2 separate regions of the Homo sapiens genome follow, and region 2 is linked to region 1. The links come from fine-mapping of genetic effects on gene expression. A gene starts in region 1. The other region holds a variant in brackets. All regions are shown on one strand. Distances are from middle to middle.

Region 1 (5,375 bases):
GGATTACAGGTGTGAGCCACTGCACCCAGCCTTCATTGTACGTCTTTTTGTCACTAGAGGTACATTTTGTTCTAACAACTAAGACCCCAAAGCATCCTTTTAAGCTTTATCGTTTTGTAAAATGGTTAAAAATAACATTTTCCACCAATGACACAGATAAAATTTTAAAATGTGGTGGTATTATTCCATTCTTATTTTAAGGATATACATATATGCAATTTGTATGTGGATATGATTTTTTGAATGGTGAACAGAAACTTAGTGGTCAGGTAGCTGGATGCGGTGGCTCATGCCTGTAATCCCAGCACTTTGGGAGGCTAAGGCGGGTGGATCACCTGAGTTCAGGAGTTTGAGGCCAACCTGGCCAATATGGTGAAACCCAGTCTCTACTAAAAATACAAAAAATTAGCCAGGCGCGGTGGTAGGCGCCTGTAATCCCAAGTACTCGGGAGGCTGAGGCAGGAGAATCGCTTGAACCCAGGAGACGGAGGTTGCTGTGAGCCGAGTCCGCGCCATTGCACTCCAGCCTGGGCAACAAGAGTGAAACTCCGCCTCAGGAAAAAAAAGAAAGAAAGAAAATAAGAAAGACAGAGAGAGAGAGAGAGGAAGGAAGGAAGAGAGGAAGGAAGGAAGGAAGAGAGGGAGGGAGGAAGGAAGGAAGGAAGGAAGGAAGGAAGGAAGGAAGGAAGGAGGGGAAACTTAGTGGTCAGATGGCAACTAGGGGAGGGGAGGCAGAAGGTAATTTATTTTTCATTTCATATCCTTCAACTATCAGAAATTTTGTCATATGTGTTTATATTTTCCACTGTGTTTCATTGATTCTAAAATGCCTTTTCTTCATAACCCTGAAATTGGAGTGTTTCTTACAATCATTGGTATGTCACATTTTTTTCTGGCTTGTGGTAATGGGTTAAAATGATAAATTGTAAAATCAATGACGTCTTAGGAATAATGAAAAATAGTTTAATAGTGAATGAAGAACTATGTAATTTTAACTGTTCACATTTACTCTTGGGTATGTTTCCAGAGGATAACTGAACGGGGATAGATTTTAAAAAGCTTTATTTAACTGGGTACTTCCGCAATTTAGTGATCAACTTCTGTGTACAACAAGGTACTGTCCTTTGAGGATGATGGGAGAATACAGGGAAGAACGAAATCGCCTCTGATCGTACTTTCTCCACGGATGTAAGTGTCCGGGCTCTAGTGGGGGAATGATACTCTTCGTGCGAAATTCACTTTTAAAAAAGGCTTAGAAAACTGACCACCGGCTCTCAGCTGCAGCTTATCAACCACAGAACTCCGAATATGCCCGCACATCAGTGCGCTGGGTTAAGAGGAGAAGGGGCTGCGGCTGAGCTTTCCTAGAAACAGCTATTTGGGGACCCATTTCCTGTTGGAGTCTGAAAGGCGCACGCACCAGAGCCAGTGGCAAAGCAACTTAAGCTGCAGGCTCCTCCTGCCCACCCCCAGCCGCGACGCCCCTGGGGGCCCTTAGCAGACTGCCAAGCGAGTGTCCCCGCCCTGTGCCTTGAATTTAGCCAAACTCCTTTAATATCAGGCCTGGCGCGGTGATTCACGCCTGTAATCCCCGCACTTTAGGAGGCTGAGGCAGGAGGATCGCTTGAGGCCAGCAGTGAAATTAGCCGGACATGGTGGCGCGCGCCTTTCTGTGGTCCCAGGTAATCCGGAGGCTGGGGCGAAAGGGTGGCCTGAGCCAGGGAGATCGAGGCTGCAGTGAGCCGTGTTGGCGCCACTGCACTCCAGCCTGGGCGACAGGGCAAGACCCTGCCTCAAAAACAAAACAAACTGTAATATCGTTCAAGAACGTGTGAAGGACACTTGGAAAGTTACCAGGCCATTTCTCTCCTGGGCGCCCGCGGCCCTAGAACGCCGGCCTCACCGGCAGACGCGCGCCCTCCTCCCAGATGCGCAGGTGACCCCGGCGGGCGGCGCGGGAAAGGGAAGAGCTCCGCGAGGCCGCGCGGGGGGGAAGCGGGAGAAGCCGCTCTTCCTATTCCACTCGCAGTCTGCGTGTGGGGGAAACGAGTGCCCGGCGTATGAAACGCCTAACTTCGCGAAATAAAGAGAGACGTATAAAAGTTCAAGAATTCTGTCCAGACTCAAGGGCCCTTTCTCATTTAGGGGCAACCCTGTCACTACATCATAAACTTTTAAATCCGTGATCCCCACGTTACAAAAGCAGAAGTCCCTTTTAGACTTTTAGCGAAAACTGAACTTTGCCGGTGTCCCACACGGAGGGAGGGAGGACGGGAGGCCACGCCAGGGCTGCGGGGCTGCAGGGCGTGGACGCATCCTGGCCGGGGCGTCCACTGTCGACGTCTCCACATCCCAGGAGGGTCGAGACGGCCGCGGGAAGCAGCCTGCGAGCCGTGCGGCCCCATTCCAAGGACCCCGCCAGTGTGAGTCACTGACAGCTTCGCGAATCAACGGTGCCCAGAGGAAAAAACTTCTCATTTGGACTTCTAGGCCCGGCAGTGGCCGGCGGCCAGGGCCCCCCAGTAGGGCAGGGCGGGGCGGGGCGGGGCGCACAGAGCCAGAGGGGCTTGCGAGCGGCGGCTGAGGGACCGCGGGGAGGGGGCGCCGAGCGGCTCCAGCGCAGAGACTCTCACTGCACGCCGGAGGGCGCCCTTCCTCGCTCGCGCCCGCGCGACCGCGCGCCCCAGTCCCGCCCCGCCCCGCTAACCGCCCCAGACACAGCGCTCGCCGAGGGTCGCTTGGACCCTGATCTTACCCGTGGGCACCCTGCGCTCTGCCTGCCGCGAAGACCGGCTCCCCGACCCGCAGAAGTCAGGAGAGAGGGTGAAGCGGAGCAGCCCGAGGCGGGGCAGCCTCCCGGAGCAGCGCCGCGCAGAGCCCGGGACAATGGGGCCGCGGCGGCTGCTGCTGGTGGCCGCCTGCTTCAGTCTGTGCGGCCCGCTGTTGTCTGCCCGCACCCGGGCCCGCAGGCCAGGTGAGAGATGCACGGGAATGGGGTGCGCGGGCGGAGGGACGCCGAGGGGAGACTGCGGGGGTCACTGTTGCGCCTTCTCCTCACCCCTGCCTCAGTTTCCTCCGAAAGCCAAACTGGCATTTGGGCTGAGATCTGGAGTTTTTTCCAGTCACGTTTAGGTGGGGCGTGCCACCCCCTTCGCGGGCCCAGCCGATGCCCCTTTGGACTCGATCTTGGAGGGTGCAGCCCGCCTGCCACGGGGTGTTGGATATGGAGGAGGATGGAGCGGAAGCCCCCTGGGGGAGCCTGCAGTCCTGCGTTGCACTTGTCATTGTGTTTCTCCCAGGACCACCCCCAAAAAGAAAAGCTCTCACGTTGCTCCACCAATAAACGTTTCGATCTTTAAAATATAAAGTGGCGAACCGCTGCCGCTGAAGTTTTGCTTTGTTGGAAGTTTTTTTCTTGCACATTTTACAGGCGAGAAAAGTGATGTAGAGAAAAGCCCAGGCAGTCCCTTGGCATGTTTAGCAGAGAATCAGTACCAGCAGCCCCCGGCCCGGCCTTGTGTCCAGGAGGTGCGCAGGGTGCGAGATATATGGTGACAATAGCAGAGGCTCCGCGTGGTGGCGGGGGAGGGGACATGGAGAGGATTTTGTTGTTACCTAGAACCCATTCCTTCTAAGTGAGTTGAAGAGAGAGATCCCTCCCCAGGACCGGGCTCCCTCGAACACTGTGGGATCCCAGTATTTCTTAACGAGATTTCTGATCCACTGCAAGAAGGTTGCTCCCCTAGAATATTTTCCCCACTAGTAGTCTATTTTTAAGTATCTGGCCACTTGACCAAATAAATAAATTTGATTAATTTATTTGGTCAAATATTTTCTGTATCCCTTTCCCCAAGAGCAGCACAGATGAGTTGTTTTTAGCCTGTAAAGGCGCTAATTAGAAAGTGAGAAAAGTGTTTTTGAATTTCCTAATAACAATAGTATTTTATAAGCTTTGAGCCATTTTTTTTACGCTGAAAGAAGTTCTAGCGGGTTTTCTTGTTATCGCTAAAAGAATGTGCACTCTATATTGCTCCCACACTCAAAAAAAAGTGTAGACACATCAAGATTAAGAGGTGACAAAGACATAGCATGTTCTCGCCTCTCTGTCTTTGTTCAGGGTGAGTTTTGAGATGCTTTTGGGAAAACTAAGAGCTCCAGACTGGGGCCCAGTGTTTAGCAGTAACTAGCCTGCCTGCAGATAAGTGAGCATTGTTGCCGAAAGTGTTTGAGAGAACACCGAGAACTCCTGAAAAATTGTTTGCGATGAGATATGATTTCACATACCATTATGTAATTTGCACAATGTAGTTTGAGGACACGCTCTTGAGAATCCAGTGTTTTGTTTGAGATTTGGATCATGGGGTGGAGAACAGAGCTTATAGAAATGCTGCACCCTTTCTCACAGTGGCCTCCCAGCAAGGTGTGTAGCCTCATTAGGGAGTGAAGTCAAAGCGTACTGGTTTCTGCCAAGCTTCTTACATCCTCATGGCAGGAGTGGTGCATGTTAATATGGACAGTGCTGGTGTAGACAGAAAGGCAGGTGGATGAACTTGGCTAGTTTATCAACACTGGATTCTGGAACCACTTTGGGAGGGAAAGAAGAAAGGAGTATGATAGAGGAAAAGGAGCGCTTGCTAAGTGCCATATTCCATGTCAAGCCCTGGGCCAGAAGGAATTTTCACTTGGATTGTCTCATTTCACCTTGTCAAAACACCTTGTTAAGGTGGGTATTTATCCCCTTTTGCTGATTCTGCAACTAAGACCCAGAGACAGCGGCTAAGCAAGTGGTGGCGGGTGGGGCAGGGAAGGGGCAGTCCACCCACCCTGGGTGCAAGCAATTAGGAATAAGTGGGGCTTTGTCTTTAGAAAATTTAAAATCACTAATAAAATCAACCCAAGATAGGTTTACTTTCTATTACCACCATGCATTGACAATTCTAAGCATTGTCTGTCATAAGGTAGTGGTGCTGGGACTCTGAGGCATCCAACAGTGCCTCCCATCCTTGAACCGCCACCGCTGTGATAGAGTTTATTGTCCAGGATTACCAGCTCTGTGTGCCAAGAGGGGCGGTGAAGCCCTCCCAGGGCTGGCCCTGACCACCAAGCTGAGCCTTCCTCCAGCACTTCCCGACTTTTTGTTCCCACTCATTTTGGCATTTCCTGCCTTGTCACTTTGTGTGTGTGTCTCATTCTCCCAACTAAGATTATAAAGTTTTATTTATCCCCATGGTGACTAAAACAAATGTTCACTCAGCAGATAGTTGTTGAGAAATGTGTAAATTCATCAACCAGTTTACATTCGTCTAGACAATTTAAGTGAGATGATATGTGATCATTAAAAGGGCCAACATCCAAGAGTAAAAGGTGATGTTTAT
Region 2 (5,375 bases), 23 kb after region 1:
CCTCAGGCAGAAGGGAGGAGGGGAAATTTAAAGCAAAATGACTAGTACTTCTCAAGGTTGAAAATAAAAAAATTTTTGATAAATTATTTCTAGAGTCATAGTCAATGAAAAAATTATTTCAACTAAACAAGGATTTTGTTAACATACAGAATTTTTATAAGTTAACACACAAGCTTTTTAAGTTTCTAAGGCCTGGACTTTTCACGTGTGTTTCAAGGAATAGATTGAGTTCAAAAAACCTTAAATTTTGCTAACACAAAAATTTTTTTTGTCCAGGCATGGTGGCTCACGCCTATAATGCCAACACTTTGGGAGACTGAGGCCAGAGGATCATTTCAGACCAGGAGGTTGAGACCAGCCTGAGCAACATAGTGAGACGCCATCTCAATTAAAAAATAAATAAATAATTAACCTGGCACGATGGCATGCCTGTGGTCCCAGCTACTCAGGAGGCTGAGGTGGGAGGATCGTCTGAGCCCAAGAGGTTGAGGCTGCAGCGAGCCATGATTGCACCACTGCAGTCCAGCCTGGGCAACAGAGTGAGACCATGTATCCAAAAAAAAAAAATGTTTTTTCCACCAAGCTAAAAATAGCATTTTTAAGGAAATGGAATGCTTGGCTATTGAATATACACTTGGAAAATTTTAGGTTATACTTCTGAATTTAAGAAATTTTAAAAACTGTTTGCCGTTGGCATGTCTTTGAGGAAGTTGAGCTACAGAAGCAAGTGGAAAAGGTTAAGCAGCATTGATGACCAAGCTATTTAAGTTTCTGGGGCCTGGACCATCCATTAGCAGCTTATCTTCAGCCAGGTGCTGTCGTGAAAATTAAGGGGAAAAACAGTTCACCAATGGTAATTTCCTGGCATAATTAGCCTGTTATGTGGCTATGCCTTTTGAAACTACTAGACCAAATGTGTGTGAAGAGTAATTGACCACAGGATAAACCTAATTGTGTTTTGTGAAGGAGGTGTGGTTAAGTGAGCTGCAATGTGAGAAGAGAGGAGAAATTCTCTAATGCAATTATTCTCAGAGTTCCTGAGACTCTCAGGAGATCTGCAAGGTCAAACTCTCTTCAAATACCAAGATATTATTTGCCTTTTTTGGTCTGTTTCTCTCATAAGTGGACAGATGAGTTTTCCAGAAGCTACACAACATGTGAAAGTGCAACAGATTGAATGCAGAAGCAGAGACGAAAATCTGACTGTCTCCTATTACACCAGTCATTAAAGAGATTGCAAAAATGTAAAACAATGCAACTCTCCTCCTTAAATTATTGTTTTGGGAAAAAATTTTGAAAAATATAGTATTTATTTTAACATGTAATGGGCTTATTGTCATTTTTAGCTGAAATAGATATTTTCAAAAGTTCTCCATTTTAATGTCTAATATGGAAAATATCAGTAGATAAAATCATTGGCAGCAGGGTGCAGTAGCTCACACCTGTAATACCAACACTTTGGGAGGCCAAGCCAGGCGGATCACGAGGCCAGGAGTTCGAGACCAGCCTGGGCAACATAGGTAAACCCCATCTCTACTAAAAATAAAAAACTTAGCTGGGTGTGGTGGTGCACATCTGTAATCCCAGCTACTTGGGAGGCTGAGGCACGAGAATCACTTGAGCCTGGGAGGCGAGGGTTACAGTGAGTCAAGATGGCATCACTGCACTCCAGCCTGGACGACAGAGCAGAGCAAGGCTGTCTCAAAAAATGAAAAAGAAAAAAAGTCAGTGATGTGCTGCTAAGCAGGATCTCCACAAAAAGAAAAAAAGCCTGATCTGGCAAACTAGCATTTGCCAATTTTGATGGTGTGAATACTCCCTTCTTTTCCAGTTTCAAGCTCCCAACTGTTTAACAGTTGGCTTGACAAATTTCCTGAATATTGAATTCTTGTGAGCAGGTACAAGTTGACTCCAGCACACCAATGGATGCAACCCACATAAACAAAGGCTCTTTGCTGGTCCTCAATAATTTTAAGTGTATTAAGGTGTTCTGAGCAAAAGAAGTTTGAAAACCACTGCCCTTATCCAAGATGTCCCAACTTTATTGACTTGAAGAAAACAGATAAACTGGTAATTATTATAAAAGCATAAAAGCAAACAGGGGTAAAGAGTTGGCTTAGAGCTGCAGGCACCACTCTGGGTTTCTGGCTGTTTCAGAGCTGAGGGGTTCCAAGTCTTGGAGCAAGAAACTGATTCAACATCCAGGCTCAGTGGCTCACGCCTATTATCCCAGCACTTTGGAAGGCTAAGGCGGATGAATGGTTTGAGCCCAGGAGTTCGAGACCAGCCTAGGCAAAATGGCAAAACCCCGTCTCTACGAAAAATACAAAAATTAGCCGAGCGTGATGGCTCATGCCTGTAGTTCCAGCTACTTGGGAGGCTAAGGTGGGAGGATGGCTTGAGCCTGGGAGGCGGAGGTTGCAATGAGCCAAGATGGTGCCACTACACTTCAGCCTGGGTGACAGAGTGAGACCCTGTCACAAAAAGAAAAGAAAAGATACTGATTCACGTCATCAGGTATGGTGTGGTCCACAGAACAGGAAGCTCTGTGTGAGGTCTGATTTTCAGCCACCTGCTGTGTAAAGGAAAGAGAGAGGTGCTTGCTGAGCAAAGTTTCAGACCAGAAGACCAAGAGACAATTCAGAACAGCAGCAGATTCTACCCATGGTGGCATTCCTGTAAAGTGAAACTCAAGCGCCAAGTTTGTTGTCATGGGGACTGTTGATTGCATGCTAGTCTTATGGAAACACACGGAAAACCAGAGGTCAAATTCAGTAGCATCTCAGAATTCAGATAACACAGCATGTACAGTTTCAACCCAGCAGGCTGTGTGTTTATCACTTCAGGAAATGACTCATAAGCAGTAAGGAGATGA[G/A]CTTTGAAAGCTGCATCTGGCCAGGGCACGGTGGCTCACCGCTGTAATCCCAGCACTTTAGTGAGGCCGAGGCGGGTGGATCACCTGAGGTCGGGAGTTTGAGACCAGCCTGGCCAACATGTGAAACCCTGTCTCTACTAAAAATACAAAAATTAGCCAGATGTGGTGGCACACACCTGTAATCCCAGCTACTCAGGAGGCTGAGGCAGGAGAATTGCTTGAACCCAGGAGGCAGAGGTTGCAGTGAGCCGAGATTGTGCCATCCAGCCTGGATGACAAGAGCGAAACTCCATCTCAAAAAAAAAAAAAAGAAAAGAAAGCTGCATCTATAGTAGCCTGCATGGTGGCAGGGCCAGTCTGGCTGTTTTGCCTATCTTAATGACTACATCTGCAGGTCATTTTGGTGTGCTGCTATGCGACCCATCCAAGGAAGTGAAAACACCACGAAGGGTGGGCTGTCCAATACTGAGATGCATTCGTGAGCAAAACCATAATCATTTGATATCTATTTTTGTTGTTTTGTTTCCTATCCTGGGATATCTAGTTGCTCTTGAAACTAGCTGACACATATTTTAAAAAAAACAAGACAAATAATATATTCCCATCCTCCAGAAGCTAACTGGCTTTGGGATTTAATCCTAATACTTAATGTTTAGTTAGGAAGCACAAAATTTGAAGACCTCAGATTTAGAATTTTATCAGCTCTGCCTTGTAACAAGTTTTAGAAACTAAATCAGTTGGCCAGGCCTGGTGGCTCATGCCTGTAATCCTAGCTTTTTGGGAAGCCAAGGCGGGCGGATCACCTGAGGTCAGCAGTTCGAGACCAGGCTGGCCAACATGGTGAAACCCTGTCTCTACTAAAAATACAAAAATTAGTCAGACATGGTGGCACGTGCCTGTAATCCAGCTACCCGGGTGGCTGAGGCAGGAGAATTGCTGGAACCCGGGAGGCAGACGCTGCACTGAGCCGAGATGGCACCACTGCACTCCAGCCTGGGCAACAGAACGAGACTCTGTCTCAAAAAAAAAAAAAAAAGAAAAGAAAGAAAGAAAAGAAAAGAAACTAAATCAGTTCTCAACTCTGGTTGCGCATAGAATCACTGGAGAGCTTCTAAACAATTCCAGTGCCAATCTCTGGGGGCGAGGCCTGGACATTGATATTGTTTTCAAGCTCCTCAGAAGATTCTGATGTGTAAACCAGGGTTGATACTAAGAAAAGAAAAATCCCTCAGCAGTCTGAGCTATGTGAGGTGTGCAAAATTTATTAGGCCCAGAGAGACGGGAGTAGAGGACTTCAGTCACACCCCCGGCACATACCCTCCCCCTACCCACCACCCCCCATGCCTGTGGGCAATTATTTAAAGTCATTTTGTTCCTGGTGGTGTGGTAGCTCATGCCTGTCATCCCAACACTTTGGGAGGCCGAGGCGAGAGGATCCCTTGAGGTCAGGAGTTTGAGACCAGACTGGTCAACATGGTGGAACCCCTACACTCCTAAAAATACAAAAATTAGCCAGGCATGGCAGCATGCTCATGAAATCCCAGCTACTCGGGGGGCTGAGGCAGGAGAATTGTTTGAACCCAGGAGGCCAGAAGGTAGAGGTTGCAGTGAGTCAAGATGGCGCCACTCCAGCCTGGGCAACGGAGAGAGACTCCATCTCAAAAAAAAAAAAGGCATTTTGTTCCTGACTAGCTACATTCCCTGTTATCTTCATGTTCCTGGAATCTGTGATACAAAGAACAATGTGTATCCAATCAACAGCTTATGTTATTTTAATGTAAATTTTGATAAACAACTTAGGAACTGCCTCTTTTCCTTTATAAACATTCACATGCAACTGCTGCTAATCAGATTGTATATTCAGGACAACTTGAATATACACTTCAATATACACTGGGTTGCAGTCCTCAAGCTTGGCCCAAATAAACTCTCTACTTATATTAATTTTGACTCAGCTTCTTCCTTTTAGATCAACAATACCACTGTTTTTGAAAAGTGCTTCTTAGCTTATATACTGCTGGTGGGAATGTAAAGTATTAGTTCAGCCATTGTGGAAAGCAGTGTGGTGATTTCTCAAATAATTTAAAACAGAATTATCATTCAACCCAGCAGTCCCATTATTGGGTATATACCCAAAGGAATAGAAATCATTCTACCATAAAGACATCTGCGCACAGGTGTTCACTGCAGCACTATTCACAATAGCAAAGCTATGGAATCAACCTAAATGCCCACCAATGATAGACTGGATAAAGAAAATGTGGTACATATACCCCATGGAATACGATGCAGCCGTAAAAAAGAACAAGATCACGTTCTTTGCAGCAACATGGATAGAGCTGGAGGCCATTATCCTAAGCCAACTAATGCAGAAACAGAAAACCAAATACCACATGTTCTCACTTATAAGTGAAACTAAACATTGAGTACACATGGACACAAAGAGGAGAACAACAGATACCAGGGCCTACTTGAGGGTGGAGGATGAGAGGGAGAGGAC

Evidence for each region.
Region 2: its variant is fine-mapped to the expression of F2R in blood mononuclear cells (TOPMed, PIP above 0.99).

The regions. Positions count from the first base shown.
Region 1 is chr5:76,713,422-76,718,796 of GRCh38, forward strand. F2R (coagulation factor II thrombin receptor) reads left to right here and starts at 2,705. Exons shown (of 2, transcript NM_001992.5): 1 at 2,705-2,974. The coding sequence starts at 2,887. RefSeq lists a silencer at 2,511-2,760 and enhancers at 4,554-5,054, 5,055-5,375.
Region 2 is chr5:76,736,367-76,741,741 of GRCh38, forward strand. No RefSeq gene overlaps it. Among named protein-coding and RNA genes, the nearest start is that of F2R, 23 kb to the left of the region's middle. RefSeq lists enhancers at 2,554-2,883, 2,984-3,053, 5,187-5,266. The variant G/A (reference allele first, on the strand shown) is at 2,876.